3 linked regions of the Homo sapiens genome follow. The protein of the gene in region 1 purifies or fractionates together with the protein of each later gene. This does not show direct contact. Each region holds a gene or a part of one and is shown on either strand. Other genes may lie near its edges.

Region 1 (7,111 bases):
TGGAGAGGTAGAAGTCACCCTTTAGTGGCGGCAGGTGGTATTAAGACAAAATCACAGGATTTGGAGTAAGTCTTGGGTTCTCAAAACTGTCTCCACCACCTGTTGGTGGAGACATCAATTCCTTAACCCTTGGAGCCACAGACCTTCTTTCCAAAAGAGTGCATATCATATGTGGAGTGATGATCATGGGACCTGGTGCATAACCGGCACCCAGTTTGCAGCACTCATCATTCCCATTGCTTTTCAGTGTTCACGGAAATGGATGCACCATTTGAAGTAGAATTTGGTTGTCTTCCTCATATCTGCTCATGTACCATGTAGTTTTTATTTGCGTTAATAAGGCTCAACATCAGTTAAAGGTCTAAAGTAGTTGTAAGACAGTCCTTTCATTCTTATCCTCCTGGTGGAGTGTTGTGGGAATCAAATAAAATACAGCAATTAATTCCAACTCAAGACCAAAATTTGTTAGTAAATAAAGCATTGATGGGAGAAGGGCTGCATATTTTGCAAGGAAGATGTAGATTAGATCATTTCAGTTGGGTTACCCTCGAAGACTAAGTCAGTCTGACTCATGCTGCCACTCAGTTATATGCTCATGCTATCAGGGAGGACTTGGGAAATACAAGGTTTGCTAGATCTGTACTAACATGTCATGGTACATAACAGCTGAAATCAGGCACCTGAAACTCATTGTGCTTGCTAAGACACAGGCTTGATCAAAAACGATATTAGTAAATGTTAAAGTCTCTTTGACCAAAATAACCAGAAGGAAAGTGTTACTAACCTCTTGCACCCTGACTTATCACAAGGCTGGGATTTTTCATACTTCAGCTCTGAGTGCAATGGGTCTTTTCCTGACAGCCTGCCAATAGCAGCTGCGTCCCTTTCTGTGTCCTTCCCACCATGCCTCACATTATCCTCTATCCCTGCACTCTCTATTCTTCATAGCACTGCACTGATTTGCTTGTTTGATTTGTTTTTTTATTGTCTCTCTTACCCACTGGACCTTAAGGCCATGAGGGTTGGTTTCACTCACCTCTTTATATTTATTTTCTAGCACAGTGACTGAAACATCACAAGCAATAAGTAATGACTAAATGAATGAATGAATATATGAACATGATATGCTCATACCAGCTTATTTTACCAGCTTATTGCTTTCACCATAAGAACTCATTTATTCCTCTCTAAGGTACATTGAAATTTACTAATTTACAACAGTGCAATTATTTGTACTGAGTTTTCTTGCCTATGAAAGACTAAATCGTATTCAATGTAAATCAACTAAAAGTTGAGTGCCAAACTATGTTTTAACACATAAAGGCAGTTATAAAAGTAAATACCATTATACTTAATAAGAAAGTTTGTAAACTACGTAAAACCAACAGTATTTCATTAGCGTCAACTTATGTCATTTTCTTTAGGTTTTTAGATTTTTTTTTCTAGGAATCTAATCAGGTAAAGAAAGGATAATATCACTTTTTAGATAAAAATTTAATAAGGTAAAAATAGACTTCTGAATATGAAAGTCATCTACCTTGATACTTTCATTGTCCCAATAATCACTACTGTGATTTGAATTAAATCCATTATTTGCTATATTTGCTATTATATCATTACTTTCTTTCTTTTTCTTTCCTTTTCCCTTCCTTCCTTTCTTCCTTCCTTCCCTCCTTTCTCTTTCTTTCTTCCTTCCTTCCTTCCCTCCTTTCTCTTCCTCTTTCTTTCTCTTCCTTCCTTCCTTCCCTCCTTTCTCTCTTTCTTCCTTTTTCTTTCTTTCTTTCTTCTTTCTTCTTTCTTCCTTTTTCTTTTTCTTCCTTCCTTCCCTCCTTTCTCTCTTTCTTCCTTTCTTTCTTTCTTTTCTTTCTTTCTTTCTTCCTTCCTTCCTTCCTTCTTGCTCTCTGTCTGTCTGTCTGTCTGTCTTTTGATGGAGTCTTGCTCCATCGCCCAGGCTGGAGTGCAGTGGCACAATCTCAGCTCACTGCAACCTCTGTCTCCGAGGTTCAAGCAGTTCTCCTGTCTCAGCCTCCGAGTAGCTGGGATTACAGATGCATGCCACCATGCCTGTCTAATTTTTGTATTTTTAGTAGAGACAGGTTTTCACCACGTTGGCCAGGCTGGTCTTGAACTCCTGACCTCAGGTGGTCTGCCCACCTCAGCCTCCCAAAGTGTTGAGATTATAGGTGTGAGCCACCACGCCCAGCCTTATACCATTATTCTCTGAAGTATTTTCTTCCACTTGATTCCAAAACCCAATCTTCTTCCGGTCACTTGAGTATTTAGTAAATTTCGCTTATTAATTCAAAGAACATTTATTGGATGCCATGTGTGTGAGACACTGGGAATAATATTGCTCCCCACCCTCCAACTCCCACAGAAGAACAAACCTGTCATGGTATAAATGAATATTAACTATGTTATACCAATTGCTTTCTGAGTCCAGCACCTCTGTATTTCATTCTTATTAATTGCAGAATCGTGAAATGTTAAAATATGAAGGGATTTTCAATTTTATGAAAACAAAAAGAGATTGTTTGATTTGCTGAAAGTTACAGAGCTATTTCGTGGGGAGCTGGGACTTGCCTCCAGGCCTCTTAACCCGTTTGCCACCCACACCCTTTTCTCCCTTACTTCTCAGGAGACCAGTCTTATTTTCATTCTTCATTTGAACTGCTTTTCTTTCAGTCTCTCTGCGTCCACTCATTCAACAAATATTTATGCTCCAGGAAGCTCACGATTTTATTGTCTTCCCCACATCTGTTCATACACCTTGTGGTTTTTACTTCAGTTCATGTAATCACTCGCTATTCCTTAGGCAGGTTAGAAACCTCCAAGTTATTTTATTTATTTTATTTATTTATTTATTTATTTATTTATTTATTTATTTATTTTGAATCAGAGTCTCACTCTTGTTGCCCAGGCTGGAGTGCAATGGCACGAACTCGGCTCACTGCAACCTCCACCTCCCTGGTTCATACAATTTTCCTGCCTCAGCCTCCCAAGTAGCCAGGATTACAGGCTTCTGCCACCGCGCCCAGCTAATATTTTGTATTTTTAGTAGAGACAGGGTTTCGCCATGTTGGCCAGGCTGGTCTTAAACCCCTGACCTCAGGTGATCCACCCGCCTCGGCCTCTCAAAGTGCTGAGATTACAGGTATAAGCCACCGTGCCCAGCCAAAAACCTCAAAGTTACTTTTAACTCCTCTCGCCCCTCACGCCTCACATTCGATAAGCAGATAGATTCTGTTGATACCAGTTGCTAAATGTTTCTGGAATCCAGACTTTGTTGTTCATGCCTTTTAATGTCATCCTAGCTGAGGTCCCATCATGTCTTGCCTGCTGTTGCAATAGCCTTCAAGTTGGTTTCCATGGCCTCCAATCGTGTTTTACATTCTCTACTACTGCCAGAATGAGCATTCACTACTGAAGAAAAAGGAGGAGGAGGAAAAGGGGAATCTAATGATGTAAAAGGACAAGAGAGTAACAGATTCATAATTTACTATTTCATAGAGGAAAAGGTTAAAAAATAAAAAAAATTAAAATAACACAAACGTTAGCTAGAAGTTAAAAGCCTTTGTCAATGTGGCTCTCTCTAAATTTCTCTTTCCATCTCCTGTGAGCCCTGACATCTTTGAATCATCGTTTATAGACCCCTTGGTGTCCTTTTACGTCTCCATGCTCTGGTACATATTTCTTCACTCTTCCTGGAATGTGTTTCTGCCTTGTGTGCAAATGCTTCCCTTTCTGTGTCTCCAATCCATTGTGTGGCAGTGGGAGCATTCACACATTGCATGGTCATTGTCAGTGTTTACACACGTACATTCCCTTCAGACATCTAGAGTTCTGTCTCTTAGTCACCATGGGCCATCCACTGCACAGTGCCTGGCACATAGTAGGTGCTTGTTAAGTGAGTACCTTACTCTCTGAAGGTGACAGAGAAATATACAAACAGTATCATTAAAGCGGACTTGTTGCAAAATAGCGGTACACGTGAAGACCATGCAAGCCCAGAAGACCCCCTGACCCCTGTCAGCAATCCTTGTGTGTGAACAGTTTGTATGCTGACATCTGCTGGTAGTACGCAGGTTACGGCAGTCCTCTGCATCATTTTACTGCTACTTCATTCAGCTTGAGCTTTTGCAACCCCCTTTGACTTTACCTCTAATAGCTGAGTCAGAGACAGCCAAGAGAAGGTAAACTAAAAGAGACACTTGCTCTAGTGACTCTCCCTTACTCGTTCTGGAATTTCTCTTCAGGAGAAAGTTTAATACAATAGGGGCATCTTTGGGGTGGGGCTGATTTAGGGCTTTTAATTTTTGTCTAATCTTTTTTTAATCTGCATGGCATTTTCCATTTTATTTTATTTTATTTTTTTTTTTTTTGAGATAAGGTCTGGCTCTGTTGCCCAGGCTGGTGTGCAGTGGCGCAATCTCAGCTCACTGCAACCTCGACCTCTCTGGGCTCAAGCAACCCTCCTGCCTCAGCCTCCTGAGTAGCTGGGACCACAGGCGTATGGCACCACATCTGGCTAATTTTTGTATCTTTTGTAAAGACAGGGCTTGCCATGTTGTCCAGGCTGGTCTTGAACTCCTAGGCTCAAGCAATCCTCCCACCTCAGCCTCCCAAAGTGTTAGGATTACAGGCGTGAGCCACTGACTGCCCTTCTGTGGTTCCTTTTATGGATAACTATTTTCAGTATAATTTCCTTGGGACTATAGACACTATTACTCTTGGCTTTGAGAGCACTCTATCGATCTCAGATACTCTGTAAGGTATTTCCAGTGGAGAATGTATCACGTCTCTTATGCCCGGTTTCCCCCTGCACCATGCTATACTTTTCCACTTTCTCTTCTTGCAGGGATTGTTTCCATTGCCACCCTAACCGTGCTGGCCTATGAACGTTACATTCGCGTGGTCCATGCCAGAGTGATCAATTTTTCCTGGGCCTGGAGGGCCATTACCTACATCTGGCTCTACTCACTGGCGTGGGCAGGAGCACCTCTCCTGGGATGGAACAGGTACATCCTGGACGTACACGGACTAGGCTGCACTGTGGACTGGAAATCCAAGGATGCCAACGATTCCTCCTTTGTGCTTTTCTTATTTCTTGGCTGCCTGGTGGTGCCCCTGGGTGTCATAGCCCATTGCTATGGCCATATTCTATATTCCATTCGAATGGTGAGTTGAAGACTACAGATGCCCCCCTCCCAAACCACATCCAGGGTAGAAAATTTTGTCTGGAAAATAATGAAAGTCTTCCTATGTCATCAGTAGTTGCCCAGAGGTAGAGCAGTTCTAGGGGACTTCCCATCTGGTTGAATTTTATGCTATGAGTCACTCTCTGGAAAGATCAATGCGGAATAGCATTTACTCTCTCTACATCCCTCTCTCAACCAAAAGAAGGAAAGAAAAATCTTCTGACTGACAAAATCAGCAACCAAAAAACCCTACATTATCCAACACTCTTAAAATTTAAGAATTTAAAAGAGGGAACTCCACACTTCCCATAACTTTGTTTATTCAGAGGTCATATGAATTTGACTAGAGAACAGCACAGATGTTTTGTTTGGCGATCACACCAGAGTCATAAAGGGTAAGAACTGACCACAAACAATTTCACGTTGGGTGCCAACAAGAACTTTCCAGTTTGAACTCAAACCCAGTGTGGAACAGGCTCCACTTCCCAGTCTCTAGCTTTGGCCATGGATGTTTCCTTCCTCATTCACTGATTCTTCCAACTCTATTCTCTGCTTCTGTCTCTAGTCTCTTGCTCACTCCGTCAAACCCTTCTAACTTTCACCTTTTTAAAAAATCGGACTTAGCTACATGCATCACTTTAAATCATTTGTTTCTACATTCTTTACATATGCCAACTTTGTTAAAGACAAAATCCCTAGATCAGTTCAATCATCTATTTTCTCTATGCCTGTAGTCAAACTGCAAGGAGGAGCTGGAAAAAAAAAAACAAAACACATCTGTCTACACTTAGATGTCCTCTCAGCCTTGTTCTACCAACCTTTCTATCCCTGTATGTGTGGTCTACTGTCTCCACACTGTGACTATTACACAGACTCATTTCTCATTTTAATTTCTCACCCTACTGTCTCCTCTCATTCTTATCAAGTAAGTCTGCTTCTGATTTATCGGACCAAACAAAGCCATTATCAAGGGTTCCTTTGACTCCTTACCTCTCTTTACACAAACCACTGATTCTTAGGACTCTCTCTTCAGTTACAGGGCGACAGGAGAGGTCTCCCAGGACCAACTCGATTCTGTATTCTGATTGCTCCCCCACCCCCTTCCATGCCCCAGAGACACTTCTTAATAATTTTCTCTTTCCCTTGTATCTTCACACTCTCCCTTACCACTGGCCCTTTCCCTTTAGCATATTACCAGGCTATTTTGTTTTTAATCACAATCTACTCTCAGCTCCCTCTAGCTATCACTTTATTTTTCTCCATTTTGTCACTGCTAACTCAAAGAACCATTGGTGACTCTTGGTGCCACAATGTCACTCACTAAGCATTCATTTACCTGATATTTATTGAGCATATCAAATATGCCAATTTCTTGCTGTTATAGACTGAATGTTTGTGTCCCTCTCAGATTCCTACGTGGAATCTCTAACCACCGATGTGACAGTATTTGGGGATGGGGCCTTGGGAGGTAATTAGGGTCAGAGGAGGTCATGAGGATGGGGCTCTGGTCTGATGGGATTAGGGGATTAGTGTCCTTGTAAGAAGAGACACCAGAAAGCTTGCTCTTTCTCTCTCTCTCTCTATCTCTATCTCTCTCTCTCTGTCTCTCTTTCTGTCTTCCCACGAGTGCATAAATAAGAGAACATGGAAGCACACAGTGAGATAACAGTCAAGAGAGGAGGCCTCAGAATGATACCTACCTTGCCAGCTACTCTACCTGGGACTTCCCAGCCTCCAGAACTGTGAGAAATACATTTCTGTTGTAGTTCAGGGAGTTGGTAGTTTAGTAAGTTTATCTAGCATTCATTCCTCAACTTAAGGCAAACTTGTGACTCCTTCCTCTACCGCACTGCCACTAATACAGCCCTCATTTCAGGTCATTGATGAGCTCCCAGATATGTGATCCCATGGAC
Region 2 (7,057 bases), on another chromosome or scaffold:
ACTTTTCACTATTTCTCACTCTTTCTCTTAGAATCAGCCTTTCCCTCCCATTGCAGGGTCATGAAATGGCTGTGAATTTGTCCAAAGCAGGTATTGAGACAACTGTCATGACTGATGCTGCCATTTTTGCCGTTATGTCAAGAGTCAACAAGGTGGGTATATCTGGAGTTATGTTGAATTCATGAAGATTATGTTTCTAAAATATTGATTTTTATCTCCTCCTGTAATATCCACGGTGAGAGAATAAAGTTTCTAGCACCTTTCAAAGTACATACTTAGGCCTTTTTAATCTGTTAACTGAATTTCTTTTCCCTTTTTTCTGCATCATTGTTCCTCTCTTGGAGTAGCCTCTAAATTTGGTTGAAGCATTGAAAAGAATGAAGTATTAAATAGAACTAAGGCAAGAGTGTCAGTTTCTAGGGATTGGCTACAGGGCTCCTGCCTTATGCTCAAAGAGCTTGGCAGTTGTGGATAGTGAATGAAAAAGATTCCTGGCTTCTCAGAAGGTATGGCATCTCAATTTCCAGAAAATATGGGACTGAGAGCAGTAGGTTTTGCAGTTTCTTGTCCCATTTTACATTCATTCTTTCCTTGGAAACCTACTTTTAAGCTAGAACTTGTATTGAGCCAGGGATCCCTTCACCTCTACCAGTCTGTGACCCCTCACGATACCAATTCTGAGGTCTAAGCATTTAGCTTTTTGTGGCCAGTGGCCCTTTTAGGGCTCCACCCCCAGGATGGCTCACATTTTTTGTCTTGTCCCAAAGGTGATCATTGGCACGAAGACCATCCTGGCCAATGGGGCCCTGAGAGCTGTGACAGGAACTCACACTCTGGCACTGGCAGCAAAACACCATTCCACCCCACTCATCGTCTGTGCACCTATGTTCAAACTTTCTCCACAGGTAAGTGTGTCTGTCTCTAGCTAGAAGCCAGCAGAAAAGAAGGAAGCCAAAGGGTAGGCTTGAACTCTGGGACTTCAACCACCTCACTCCAGGGCCTCCATTTATCTGCATTTACTCAATGGATTACACCCAGTGGAGGCTGGAAAGAACCACAGAAGTCTTGATTCAGTAAAACAGTTGAGAGTTCTCAGCTGTCAACTTTAGGAAGTCAAGATTGTAAGGACAATATGTAGTTGGGAAAGGTCCTTTGCTTACGATTGCCACCACTCCCTGTCGCCTGACCATTTCTGAAAATGCCAAGCAGGTTGAAAGTAGGATCATAGAATCAGTTTTGTTATTGTTGCAGGGCCTGTCCTTTGTAACCTGAATACAAGCAAGGACTAAGTGAAGAGCCATTTCATCAGTGATAGAAGCTATTTGCTTTGAAAACATCAACCTATTTATAGGTCTCTATTTTTTAAATTGAGGTGAAATTCACATAACATACAATTAACCATTTTAAAGTATACAATTTAGTGATATCTAGTACATTCACAGCATTGTACAACCACCACTCTCTAGTTTCAAAACTTTTTCTCCACTGTAGAAAAACACCCTGTACCCATTAAGTAATCTCTCCCTATTTGTCCTTCTCCCCATCTCCTCCAATCTGCTCCTGTCTCTATGGATTTGCCCATTTTGTATAAAAGGAATCATATAATATGTGACATGTTGTGCCTGACTTTTTTCACTTAGCATGATGTTTTCAAAGTTCATCCATGTTGTAATGTCAGAATTTCCTTTCGAGGCTGAATAATATTCCATTATATGAACATACCACAATTTATTAATCCATTCATCTGTTTATGGGCATTTGGGTTGGTTCCAGCTTTTGGCTTTTGTGAATAATGCTGCTATAAGCATCTGTGTATAAGTTTTCTGTGTGGACATATGTTTTCATCTCTAGGGTACATACCTAGGAGTGGAATTGCTGGGTCTCTAGTTTTTATAAATTTTTTCCTTTTTAGTTCCCCAATGAAGAAGACTCATTTCATAAGTTTGTGGCTCCTGAAGAAGTCCTGCCATTCACAGAAGGTACAGAAGCTGTGTGTGCATGCGTGCATGTGTTGTGTGTATTCGGGGTTTGTGTGTGCATGTGTTTTGGTCTTTTTGTTGTTTTGTTGGTCAGTAGAACTGAATGCTGTCAAGTTGTGTTTTTTATCATACTTCTTGTGGGGACTGTTTTCTTTAGAAGCTCAAAGTGCTTGAGGACCTGACCAAGTCCATGTTAATTTGTTCTGAGACAAATATATTTTAGATTTGTTGGGGCTATTGTGGGTTGGATCATTTAGCATTGTCTGGGTTTGGCTTTGCATGCTGTTTGAGATATAGACAACAACCAGTTGGGAAAATGTACCTGTTTTCCTGCTATAAGGAGTCATTTTGGTGAATTGACTCCCAAAGGAAGCAGGTTGTGAAATGTTCCTCCTTAGAAAACTCACCTGTAGCCTGGATAGTCTCATGTCTTGGGGTTCTTTTCTCTGGCTTCTTCTGAAGGCAGCAGCTCAGCTCATTACGCGTGCAGCCTCATCAGCAAGGGTGGCCTTACACACCATCTGAGAGCAACGCATAGTAGTTGGTTGGGGTCCTAGTTCCTCTTGGAAGTTGATTGACTTCATCCCTTTATTTAAATAAACATTCAATCTTCAAGAAATAGTTATTGAGCACCTACAATGTATCCAGCACTCTTCTAGGCACTGAAGATAAAACAATGAATGAAAAAGATAAGGCCCTGTTCCCACACATTCTATTGTGGAAGACAGATGAGAAAGTATCAGGTCATGGGATGCCTGAGGACAAGCAAGGCTGATGTGGTAGAAAGTGGCTAGGGGCCTGAGATTGAGGAAGGGTCTTAATGAGATGACATTTCAGCTGAGTCCTGAATGAACAGAGTCCACCATATGAAGATCATAGTTTTCTATGAGCTGGTGCAGGGGCTTAGCCAGTTAGAAAAGGATGGCCATACATGGCTAGACAGTAATGAGCAAGGGGGAGAGTGGTCCAAATTGTAATTCATGTGGTGTGTCAGGGAGGGCCCAGATCTTAAACTTCAATCCTGAGTTTGAATTTTATTCTGAGGGCTGTGCAGAGGCATGGGAGAGTTGTAAGCAGGGATTGTCATGATCTGAAGTCATCTCTTCTGGTTTGCATTTTTCCATAGCTTCCCGTCCTTGGGGAGCTAATATGCCTGCATTCTCGAGCCTGGAATCTATATGCTACTTAATTATGAGAGAGGGAGCCTCAGTTTTACCTTTAGCATGTGTGCTTGCCTTTCAGGGGACATTCTGGAGAAGGTCAGCGTGCATTGCCCTGTGTTTGACTACGTTCCCCCAGAGCTCATTACCCTCTTTATCTCCAACATTGGTGGGAATGCACCTTCCTACATCTACCGCCTGATGAGTGAACTCTACCATCCTGATGATCATGTTTTATGACCGACCACACGTGTCCTAAGCAGATTGCTTAGGCAGATACAGAATGAAGAGGAGACTTGAGTGTTGCTGCTGAAGCACATCCTTGCAATGTGGGAGTGCACAGGAGTCCACCTAAAAAAAAAATCCTTGATACTGTTGCCTGCCTTTTTAGTCACCCCGTAACAAGGGCACACATCCAGGACTGTGTCTTGCCTTTCAGATCTTAACAGAGCAGCAGGGCTTAACTTGTTGATTTTGGAGCCTCTTAGTGACCTGGTTGCGTCTGTGTCAGGAACTTAAACTTTCTGGTTCAGTAGTGTGTTAAACATAACACTGAATACCTTACTGGGATACAGATTTTTGCTCAGAAATGGCTATGACACTTTTTCTAGGCTCTACCAATAAAAGCCACTTGAAGGTTCCATAGTTGGTTTATTTATTGTCCTACTCTGACAGAACTGCTTGAAACAGCAGCAGCAGAGCCTTTTTTGTGTTTGCATAGAGGGCTGTAGTTAGCGGGAAAAGTGTACAACATGGTAGTACTGGCCAGATGCAGTGGCTCCCACTTGTAATCCTGGACTTTGGGAGGCTGAGGTGGGAGGCTTGTTTGAGGCTTGTTTGAGGCCTGGAGTTTGAGATTAGCCTGGCAACATAGCAAGATCCTGTCTCTACAAAAAAATATTTTAAAAAATTAGCCAGACATGGTGGCACATGCCTGTGGCCTCGCTATGCTGGAGGCTGAGGTGGGAGGATCACTTGAGCCCATGAGTTCAAGGCTTCAGTGAGCTATCATTGTACCACTGCACTCCTGCCTGGATGATAGAGCAAGACTCTGTCTCTAAAAAAATAACAAGTACAAATGAAAGTATAGTTTCCTTTACAATTCACTGCTCCTGGCCCCAAAGTTTGTTCATAGTCTAAAACAGTAGTTCCAAAACCTCGCTGATCATCAGAATCACCTGAGAGTGATTCCGATCACTCACTCACACAGTCTTGGGTTTCATCTCAGTCCTACTGCATCTGATCTCAGGGTTACTACCTGGGAATCTGTTTAAAGCTTCCCAGAAAAGGATAGTCTCATGTAGTGTTTATAGGACTATAAATTGGTACAGCCTTTTAGAGGGCAATTTGGAAGCTGTATTTCTAGAATTATTTGTACAAGCAAAAAGATTTATACAGAGTGTTCAGTGTAGTAGTTGTAATGTCATAGCCTAAGTGTCCAGCAATAGGAGAAAGGTTAAGTATTGACAGTTACACCGTGGAACATTATACATGGCAATAGAAGTTTCAAAAGGATGGCTGGAGGGGCAGTGTCTGGATTGAAGGCATTTGGGCTGGTTCACTGCATTTAATGTGAATTTGTTACCAATATTTAAAAATCTGGAGATTGCACATTTCAAAAATTCAGATTTCTTGCTTTTCTTGAAAACTCAAATTTGGCAACTCTGGGCCAACATTTCCAAATGGCAGTAGTTAGTTTGTGGTTGGGTAACATCTGATGCCATTGGATGGAACATCTCCAGTTTTCTGCAGTTCCTACTGGATCCATTTAACTCATTTATGTTATCTGCCTAACCCCTGTAGGCATTTGAGTTGTGATCCTGGTGTTAAAAGAATGGGACAGATTTGCAAGGAAGTCCATTTGATACTCTGTTAGTTAAAAACAAGCTGGGGAAAAAAAACACAACAAGCTGCAGAGCAATATGCATAATACGGACTCATTTCCATAAAACAACACTGGCTGGGCGCAATGGCTCACGCCTATAATCCCAGCACTTTGGGAGGCTGAGGAGGGCAGATCACTTGAGGTCAGGAGTTTGAGACCAGCCTGGTCAAAATGGCGAAACTAAAATACTATAATAAAATTTTTAGTTCCACTAAAAATACAAAAATTAGCCAGGTGTGGTTGTGGGTACCTGTAGTCCCAGCTACTCGGGAGGCTGAACTTGGGAAGTAGAGGTTGCAGTGAGCAGTGCCATTGGGCCACTGCACTTTAGCCTGGGCAACAGTGGGTGAGACTCTGTCTCACAAAAACAAAACAAAATTATATGTACACGCATAGGGAAACAGTATAGAAGTATAATACCAAGCACAGCAAGCAGAGGGACATCCTCTAATTTTGTTGACATGTTTATGCTTACATATTGTTTCCGGTTTTTAACCTAAAAAGTCTCCCAGGTGATCCAGATTTTCTGCCATGTTTAGGAACTAGTGGTCCAAAGCAGGGCCTCTTGTGCAGTGTCTGTGTGGGTGGAGGGAGCACTAAGAATCTGCATGTTTAACAAATAGCCTGTGGGCTTTGAACAGGTGATTTGAAACCACATTTTGGTTAACACTGGGCAGAGGTAGGTTCTGAGGGAAAGGTCTCTATTCTTTGATATCTCTTTGAGAGCGATCTTTGCCTTAGGTCTTCCAGAGAGGGGAAAAAAGTAAGACCTCAGAAAGTCGGCATTTTACACTGACCTAAAAGCTGTATGACTCAGAAGAGCCTGACTCACTCAGGCTCAGTCTTTCTATTATTTCTTAAAGCATCTAAGACCCCACGCTTTCTCAGTGAAGTGGCTTGTAGCTACCAATTACGAGCAATTGTCTCCTCCAAAGGCACCAATTCTAACAGCAATTCACTTGGGTACAATTGTGTGGTTTGGAGTAAGAGCAGCAGTGAGGCAAGGAACTTAAATCTGTTCCTGGCTCCAAAAATGCTTTATGATACTTGTCCTTTGTCCATCTTAGTCTCTGTGTCTAAAATTAGCACCAACATCCTTCCCAGGCATGACTGAGTTGGATGAAGGTTATAAGGGTAGAAGCTCTCTTTCTGGTCAGCTCTTACAGTGCCTAGAACAGAACTGCAGGAATGCATACTTTTTAGAATCTTTATGACCCCAATTAAGTAAACCCTATTAAGGCTCATCTTCTTATTTCCCCTCTCTCCGTTTCCCTATTTGAGGAGGGGTAAGTATCAGAAAGAGAGAACCTGAACTGAACAGGAGGAAACAGAAGTTCCACATCAACTCACTACCTGTCAGCCTTGGTATCAGGGGTGCCCACCTCCCACCCCTGCCTTGCTGGCGGAACCGAGAAACTCGGAAAAAAACAAACAAAAAAACAACTGTTGTAGCTTGGAGAGAATTAATAGAACTAGGATTCCATGGATGTGAAAGTCTTCCTCAATATGCTAAATAAACCAAGTTAGATAACAGTGCAGTTTGTAAAGACACTTTTTTCCCACGGTTTCTATCTTCCAGTTTGGGCAGAGGGCAGGAAAGGCACAATTCTTGGAACTTGAATAAGGAACAGAAATTCCTAATTTAGCCTCAGAAGAGACATCTCTGAAAAATACTCTACCAGGAAAAACTGAAGTGTAAAATGATACCTCAAAGAAATCAATGCTGGAACCCATAGGATCATATGTTTCATGGATGTGCTTCAAAACTATTTCTCAAAGCAATCTGTTGCATCAGTCTTTGGGCTAATGAAGGCTGCCAGTCACAGTTCCATCATGGAATGACTGGCATACTCTGTAATGATCTATAATACTACAACTACATCAGAACTGCTCTGCCATACAGATAGTACCAGATGGTGATGTGATTATTGTAAAGGCCTCACACTATCCACCTGTCCTTGCAAAAACTCCCTTAGCAGACATGCACCTAGTTGACATGAAAGAACAATTTTGAAATGTGATTTGGAAGTGTT
Region 3 (7,111 bases), about 200 Mb from region 1:
GCTAGGCCTATGGGTCTAGAAAGGCTGATTAGGATAAGGGACTGAAGTACTCCCAGGTCCTTTTAGGTGAGGGATACTTTCAGGACTGGGTTGGGTCAGCCAGTCAGAAAGTAGCCTTCCTAGGAGCTTTACATTGGACAGCTGCTGCCCCACCGATACATCTTGGCACACAAGAGTTAGGCCACTGTATCTGTCCTGTCCCACACACTTGCTCCAGATGATCTTTACCACATGACACATGAACATACACTGTGTACACCTGGAGCCCACCTGACATGGAGCTTTGGACTGCTCCACAAGTCTCCAGCATGCCTTTGGAAGCCCTTCTTTATTGGGAAATAAATACAGAGTTAAACAGGTGGGCCGGCCAACATCTGTGGCTTTGGAGGCCAAAAGGAAGGAGTCTGACTTGCTCAGAACTCAGATCTCCATGAGCTGGTCATTCCCCACGATCACCTCATTCACTCGTTTAGCTACAAAAGAAAAGGAAAAAAGTTTTCTGAGAACTGGCAGCAAGATGACATTTCAAACCCAACTGCTTTTTTTTTTTGGAGACCGAGTTTCGCTCTTGTCACCCAGGCTGGAGTGCAGTGGCACAATCTCGGCTTACTGCAACCTCCATCTCCCAGGTTCATGCGATTCTCCTGCCTCAGCCTCCTGAGTAGCTGGGATTACAGGCGCCCGCCACCACGCCTGGCTAACTTTTGTATTTTTAGTAGAGATGGGGTTTCACCGTGTTGGCCAGGCTGGTCTCGAACTCCTAACCTCAGGTGATCTGCCAGCCTCAGCCTCCCAAAGTGCTGGGATTACAGGTATGAGCCACCACGCCCAGCCAAACCCAACTGCTTCTAATTCTGTGTTCACAAAAATTTATTTCTCTACTATTGTGGCTGTGATCTTGAGAAGCTCTTGGAAATAGGGATATGAGAGAGAGAGCACCTTCCTATGCAGGAGGATGGGACCAACTGTCTATATACCTGGCTGTGGTGAGGCTTTAAATAGGAGAACTGAAACTGGGTCTTAAAGGGTGAATAGTTTCTACAGGCAGTGATGGAAGGGATTCTAGGCTGTTAGAACAGCAAGGGCAAAGACAGTGAGATGGGAGAAAGGGGACCATGAAATACTGTGGTGTGGCCAGAGAATAGGAAATGAGGGGATAAGGGTAAGAAATGAGGCTAAAAGGATAAACGGAGATAAGAAAGGGCAATACCTCATATATAATATGGAAATAATGACACCTACTGCATAGGGTTGTTGTGAGAATTCAATGAGTTAAAGGTAAGTGAATGCTCAATAAGTTGTGGCTATTATTATTTCTATAAAGGTCAAACCCATAAGGCCCTCCATGACATCTTTGCCTACCTCTCCAGCTTCATTTCCCACTATTCTCCATTTTGCCAGTAAGCCATACTGTTTTAATCCCTTTTTTTTTTTTTGAGATGGAGTCTTGCTTTGTCACCCAGGCTGGAGTGCAGTGGCGCAATCTTGGCTCACTGCAACCTCCGCCTCCTGGGTTCAAGTGATTCTCCCGCCTCAGCCTCCCCAGTAGCTGGGACTACAGGCATATGACGCCACACATGGCTAATTTTTTTTTTTTTTTTTTTTGTATTTTTAGTAGAGATGGGGTTTCACCATGTTGGCCAGGCTGGTCTGGAACTCCTGGGCTCAAGTGATCTGCCCTGCCTTGGCCTCCCAAAGTGCTGGATTACAGGCGTGAGCCACCGCACTTGGCCCTGTTTTATACCTTTGAACTTTGGCACAACCCTCTGCCTAGAATGCTTCCCCCTCCATTTTTTCCTGTTGCACTCTTACTACCCTATGTGCCCTAACGTAGCACCTCTAATATGCGATGCCTTCCCTTTTGCACTGTCCATTTCCTGCTTTGTGAAACCACTGTACCTAATATATATCTCTATTCCTACATCATTATACCACTCTCCTCTACTTCACTATAAGAACATTGAGGGCGCTGGGCGCGGTGGCTCATGCCTCTAATCCCAGCAGTTTGGGAGGCCAAAGCAGGTGGATCACCTGAGGTCGGGAGTTCAAGACCAGCCTGGCCAACATGATGGAACCCCATCTCTACTAAAAATACAAAATTAGCCAGGCATGGTGGCGCATGCCTGTAATCCCAGCTACTCGGGAGGCTGAGGCAGCAGAATTGCTTGAACCCAAGAGGTGGAGGTTGCAGTGAGCCGAGATCGCAGCATTACACTCCAGCCTGGGCAACAAGAGTGAAACTCTGTCTCAAAAAAAAAAAAAAAAACAAACCAAGAACATTGAGAGGAGAGATGGAACAGTGTAGTTATGATTATATCCCCAGTGTCTAGCATAGCTACTGCCACATGATGATTTTAGAGGTTTTGGGTAATGACTAAGATAGGATATGGTCATATAACTGGAGAGCTAAAGCTGAATGCAGATGAAGGTTGGTAGAGAAGTTCAGGGAATCATGAAGCCGGAGAGCTGGACAGTTTACTGATGAATATGTTTAAGTTGTCCAAGATGTTATGGACAAGTGAGGGAGAGGAGAGGAAGACTGTGAACCACAGGCTAAAGCTCTTAATAAATGTAGGGAAGTACCCTGGAAGCTGATCAATGATGCGGTGAAAGGTAAGAAGAGCTATAGAAAACTTTCAAGGAAAAAGAACTATAGAAAGGAGGCAGTGAGCCAATAGCCTGGAAGGGGCAGGGGGAGCCAGGGAACAGAGACTATATCTGGCATGTTGGGGTTGATGTATTTTCATGGTGATTCAGTAAGTTGGAGGAAACCTGTAGAGGCACAACAAGCAGAACTAGGCCGGGCGTGGTGGCTCGCTCCTGCAATCCAGCACTTCGGGAGGCCAAGGTGGGTGGATTGCCCCAGCCCAGGAGTTTGAGACCAGCCTGGGCAATAGTTAGACACCATCTCTACAAAAAATAAAAATATTAGCTGGATGTGGTGGCATATGCCTGTGGTCTCAGCTACTCAGGGGCCAGGGAGGGAGGTCGCTTGAGCCCGGGAGGTCAAGGCTACAGTGAGCTGTGACTGTGCCACCTACACTTCAGCCTGGGTGACAGAGTAAGACCCTGTCTCAAAAAAACAAAAAACTAAGCAAAGCTAGTGATGCTTGGTCAGGGATGGGAGTAGGGTCCAGTAAATACACTGGAAAATCTTTGGGCTGGAATCAGGTTGGGAAAGATCCCAAGGGGAAAAATACAAGGGAGGATGATAAGTTGGGAAAATAGCAATGGGATAGAAGGGAAAAACATCACAAATAAAAGGTGCACTGTTGGGAAACTGGGAAAGCTTCCTGCTGGCCAGGAGGATTTGACCTGTGTCAAGTATACATCAACAGCCTGACCTATACCAGGTCTACTTTCATGGTCAAAGAACTGATCACTCTGGCCATAGGGAAGAGATCCAAGTTCTGTCACTGACTGTAAGAAGAGACTCAGATGAAGCATGCTTTTAGCAGTTAGTGTTTTTTTTTTTTGTTTTTTTTTTTTCTGAATGGAGTCTTGCTCTGTTGCCCAGGCTGGAGTGCAGTGGTATGATCTCTGCTCACTGCAACCTCCGCCTCCCAGGTTCAAGTGATTCTCCTGCCTCAGCCTCCCAAGTAGCTGGGATTACAGGTGTGTGCCATCACACACAGCTAATTTTTGTATTTTTAGTAGAGATGAGGTTTCACCATGTTGGCTGGGCTGGTCTCGAACTCTTGACCTCAAGTGATCCACTCGCCTTGGTCTCCCAAAGTGCTGGGATTACAGGCGTGAGCTACAGCCTCTGTACCCAGCCATTTTTTAGGTTTTGACTGTTAGCTGTAGCCATTCTACTGCTTGAGAAGGTCAAATTTGGCTGCCAGTATTTTTGCCAGAGATAACCAATGAGAGTATTGGGATGGGGTGAGAAAAGTCAGAGTTGTTATAAAATGGCTTGTTTTCGTGTTGGTGCTAGAAGAGGGTAGGGAGGCCTACACTGAGTTACGAGCCATACTTTTGGGGAAAAAGACTGCTATGGATGTGGTGACTCTGGAGCATGAAAATGATTAGAATTTGGAGAGGAGACTGCATTATGTCTTTTTTTTTTTTTTTGAGATGGAGTTTCGCTCTTGTTGCCCAAGATGGAGTGTGATGGCGTGATCTCAGCTCACCACAACCTCTGCCTTCCAGGTTCAGGCAATTCTTCTGCCTCAGCCTTCCAAGTAGCTGGGATTACAGGCATGCACTACCACGCCCGGCTAATTTTTTGTATTTTTAGTAGAGATGGGGTTTCTCCATGTTGGTCAGGCTGGTCTCGAACTCTTGACCACAGGGATCCACCCGCCTCAGCCTCCCAAAGTGCTGGGATTACAGGCATGAGCCACCGCATCCGGCTGAGACTGCATTATTTCTTAGGATGAATGTTTTTTCCTGAAACCCCTTCATGTGAGGAAGACTGACGGAAGACTTTGCCATCTATTGAGCTCTTTGCTGGTAAGGATGTGAGTTGTTGGTGTTTGCCTAGGTCACCTATAGTAACAAGTCTTGAGTGCTGCACTGATGGTTAGGAGTTTGCTTTCACCATACGGCTCAGTCTCAAAAAAAAAAAAAAAAGAAGAAGTAATAGTGGAAAAAGGCAACTGGCCAGGGAGTTCCTGTGGCAGGAGGGCACTGACCACTGTGCTGGATGCACTGGTCCTTCCAGCAGAGGACAGAGAGAAGGAAGTGGTGGGGTTGTCCAGTTTAGAGCCCAGACAAGATGACTTCCCTGGCCAGCCCTCCTTCAGCAGGACCATTAAAGGGTCTCCTTGCTAAAAGGTGGACACATAGTGTTAATTAAAGCCAGAAAGCCCAGGAGTTTATGAAGCCCATCTCATGATGATTGCAACCATCGCACAGAGGCCTTTCTTGGAACCCTAACTTTATACCCTGAAATCCCCCAAAATATGTTTCATGGATCCAACATTCATTCATTCACTCTTTTCCCCTTCTGAGCATTTACCATAAATCAGGACCTGTTCTGAGAGCTAGGGATGCATATAGTTATGAGACAATCGACCTTGAGGATCTTTTTTTTTTTTTTGAGATGGAGTCTTGCTCTGTCACCCAGACTGGAGTGTAGTGGTGCAGTCTCAGCTCACTGCAGCCTCCGCCTCCTGGGTTCCAGCAATTCTCCTGCCTCAACCTCCCAGGTAGCTGGGATTACAGGCATGCACTACCACACTTGGCTATTTTTTGTATTTTTAGTAGAGACGGGGTTTCACCATGTTGGTCAGGCTGGTTTCGAACTCCTGACCTCAGGTGATCCGCCCACTTCGGCCTCCCAAAGTGCTAGGATTACAGGTGTGAGCCATCATGCCCAGCTGACCTTGAGGATCTTAGTAGGGAAGGCTGATTCACGGATAATTGCCATGGCTTGTGAAACATACTTTAATAAAGGTGTGGCAAAGCTCAAGGACACAGTGGAAGGAATGTGTAGTTCTGCTATGGGGAGTCATGGGAAGAGGCAGAGAAGGTTCTACAAAGGAGAAAACACTTGGTCGGAGTCTTCAAGAGAGGAAATCTAGAGAGAGCACATGTAAAAGCATGGAGAGGTATAATGGCACGGTATGTATGAGGAATTCTAAGTCTTTTGGTACACTCAAGGAGTAGTGCATATACCTGTCATTTAATTATATGTAATTCTCACAATTCTCCAAGGTAGCTATTATTGTCCCAATTGTCTAATTAAGAAAATCTGGGGCTGGGCGCAGTGGCTCATACCTGTAATCTCAGCACTTTGGGAAAGTGAGGTGGGTGGCTTGCTTGAGGCCAGGAGTTCAAGACCAGCCTGGGTGACATTGCAAAACCCTGTCTCTACTAAAAACACAAAAATTAGCCAAGGGTGGTGGTGTGCCCCTGTAGTCTCAGCTGCCCGGGAGGCTGAGGCACAAGAACCACCTGGATCCAGGAGGAGGAGGCTGCAGTGAGCTGAGATAGCACTACTGTACTCCAGCCTAGGCGACAGAGCAAGACTCTGTCTCAAAAAATTAAAATTAAAAAAAAAAAAAAAAAAAAGGAAAATCTGAGGGCTTAATGATTAAAAATTTCACTTGGTGCACAGCCACTAAGTTGAGTTGAGATGTGAACTGAGGTCTGTTTGATTCTAAAGCCCAAAAGGAAGGCATATGACTTTAAAAAAGGGAAGGGGGAAGAAACTGAAGAAGGAAATGATGTGGCGTCTACAGAGTTGGTGGGGTTAATTCCTTCAGCAACTCCCCTCCCCACCTTATTTTAGGTTTAGGAATAATACCAAAAGCAATCAGTCATTTTAATTTTTATTATTATTTTTAAGACAGGGTCTCCCTCTGTCACCCAGGCTAGAGTGCAGTGGTGCGATCTCAGCTCACTGCAGCCTTGACCTCTCAGGCTCAAGCAATCCTCCTGCCTCAGCCTCTTGAGTAGCTGGGACAACACGTGTGTGCCACTGTGCCTGGCTAATTTTTAATTTTTTTGTAGAGATGGGTTCCTGCTATGTTGTCTAGGCTCAAGCGATCCTCACATTTCAGCCTCCCAAAGTGTTGGGATTATTGGCATGAACCACTGTGCCTAGGCTTCAAGAATCACTGTACAGTATTGGTGCCAACCTGGGCCATTAGATCTATTGATATGTTTTCAAGGTTTTGAGATTAAGGGTGCATACATGTATAAGCTTATCTATAAGATTAATTTCTAGAAATGAAACTGTTAAGTCAAAGTAAAAAAATTTGACAGTGATGCCAGGTGCGGTGGCTTACGCCTGTAATCCCAGCACTTTGGGAGGCTGAGGTGGGCAGTTCTCCTGAGGTCGGGAGTTCGCAACCAGCCTGACCAACATGGAGAAACGCCATCTCTACTAAAAATACAAAAAATTAGCTGGGCGTGGTGGCACATGCCTGTAATTCCAGCGACTCAGGAGACTGAGGCAGAAGAATCGCTTGAACCCGGGAGGCGGAGGTTTCAGTGAGCTGAGATTGCACCATTGCACACCAGCCTGGGCAACAAGAGTGAAACTCCGAAAAAAAAAAAAAAATTGACAGTGATGTCAACTGCTCTCCAAAGATGGCTTTATCAATTTATGTTCTCGCCCGCAGTGTACGTATGTGCTTGTTTCCCACATCCTCACCAGCCT

Evidence for each region.
Region 2: the proteins of OPN3 (region 1) and EIF2B2 purify together in Homo sapiens (affinity purification with mass spectrometry; 3 studies listed by BioGRID and IntAct, with this or other methods). This does not show direct contact.
Region 3: the proteins of OPN3 (region 1) and EIF2B3 purify together in Homo sapiens (affinity purification with mass spectrometry; 3 studies listed by BioGRID and IntAct, with this or other methods). This does not show direct contact.

What each region holds. Positions count from the first base shown.
Region 1 is NC_000001.11:241,602,327-241,609,437, reverse strand, and holds part of OPN3 (opsin-3), read left to right. Parts: intron 1-4,858; coding exon 4,859-5,178; intron 5,179-7,111.
Region 2 is NC_000014.9:75,005,810-75,012,866, forward strand, and holds the end of EIF2B2 (translation initiation factor eIF2B subunit beta), read left to right. Parts: intron 1-56; coding exon 57-152; intron 153-767; coding exon 768-905; intron 906-1,912; coding exon 1,913-1,979; intron 1,980-3,221; coding exon 3,222-3,379; 3' UTR 3,380-6,557; downstream 6,558-7,057. UniProt on the Homo sapiens protein: Acts as a component of the translation initiation factor 2B (eIF2B) complex, which catalyzes the exchange of GDP for GTP on eukaryotic initiation factor 2 (eIF2) gamma subunit.
Region 3 is NC_000001.11:44,850,531-44,857,641, forward strand, and holds part of EIF2B3 (translation initiation factor eIF2B subunit gamma), read right to left. Parts: intron 474-7,111; coding exon 421-473; 3' UTR 1-420. UniProt on the Homo sapiens protein: Acts as a component of the translation initiation factor 2B (eIF2B) complex, which catalyzes the exchange of GDP for GTP on the eukaryotic initiation factor 2 (eIF2) complex gamma subunit.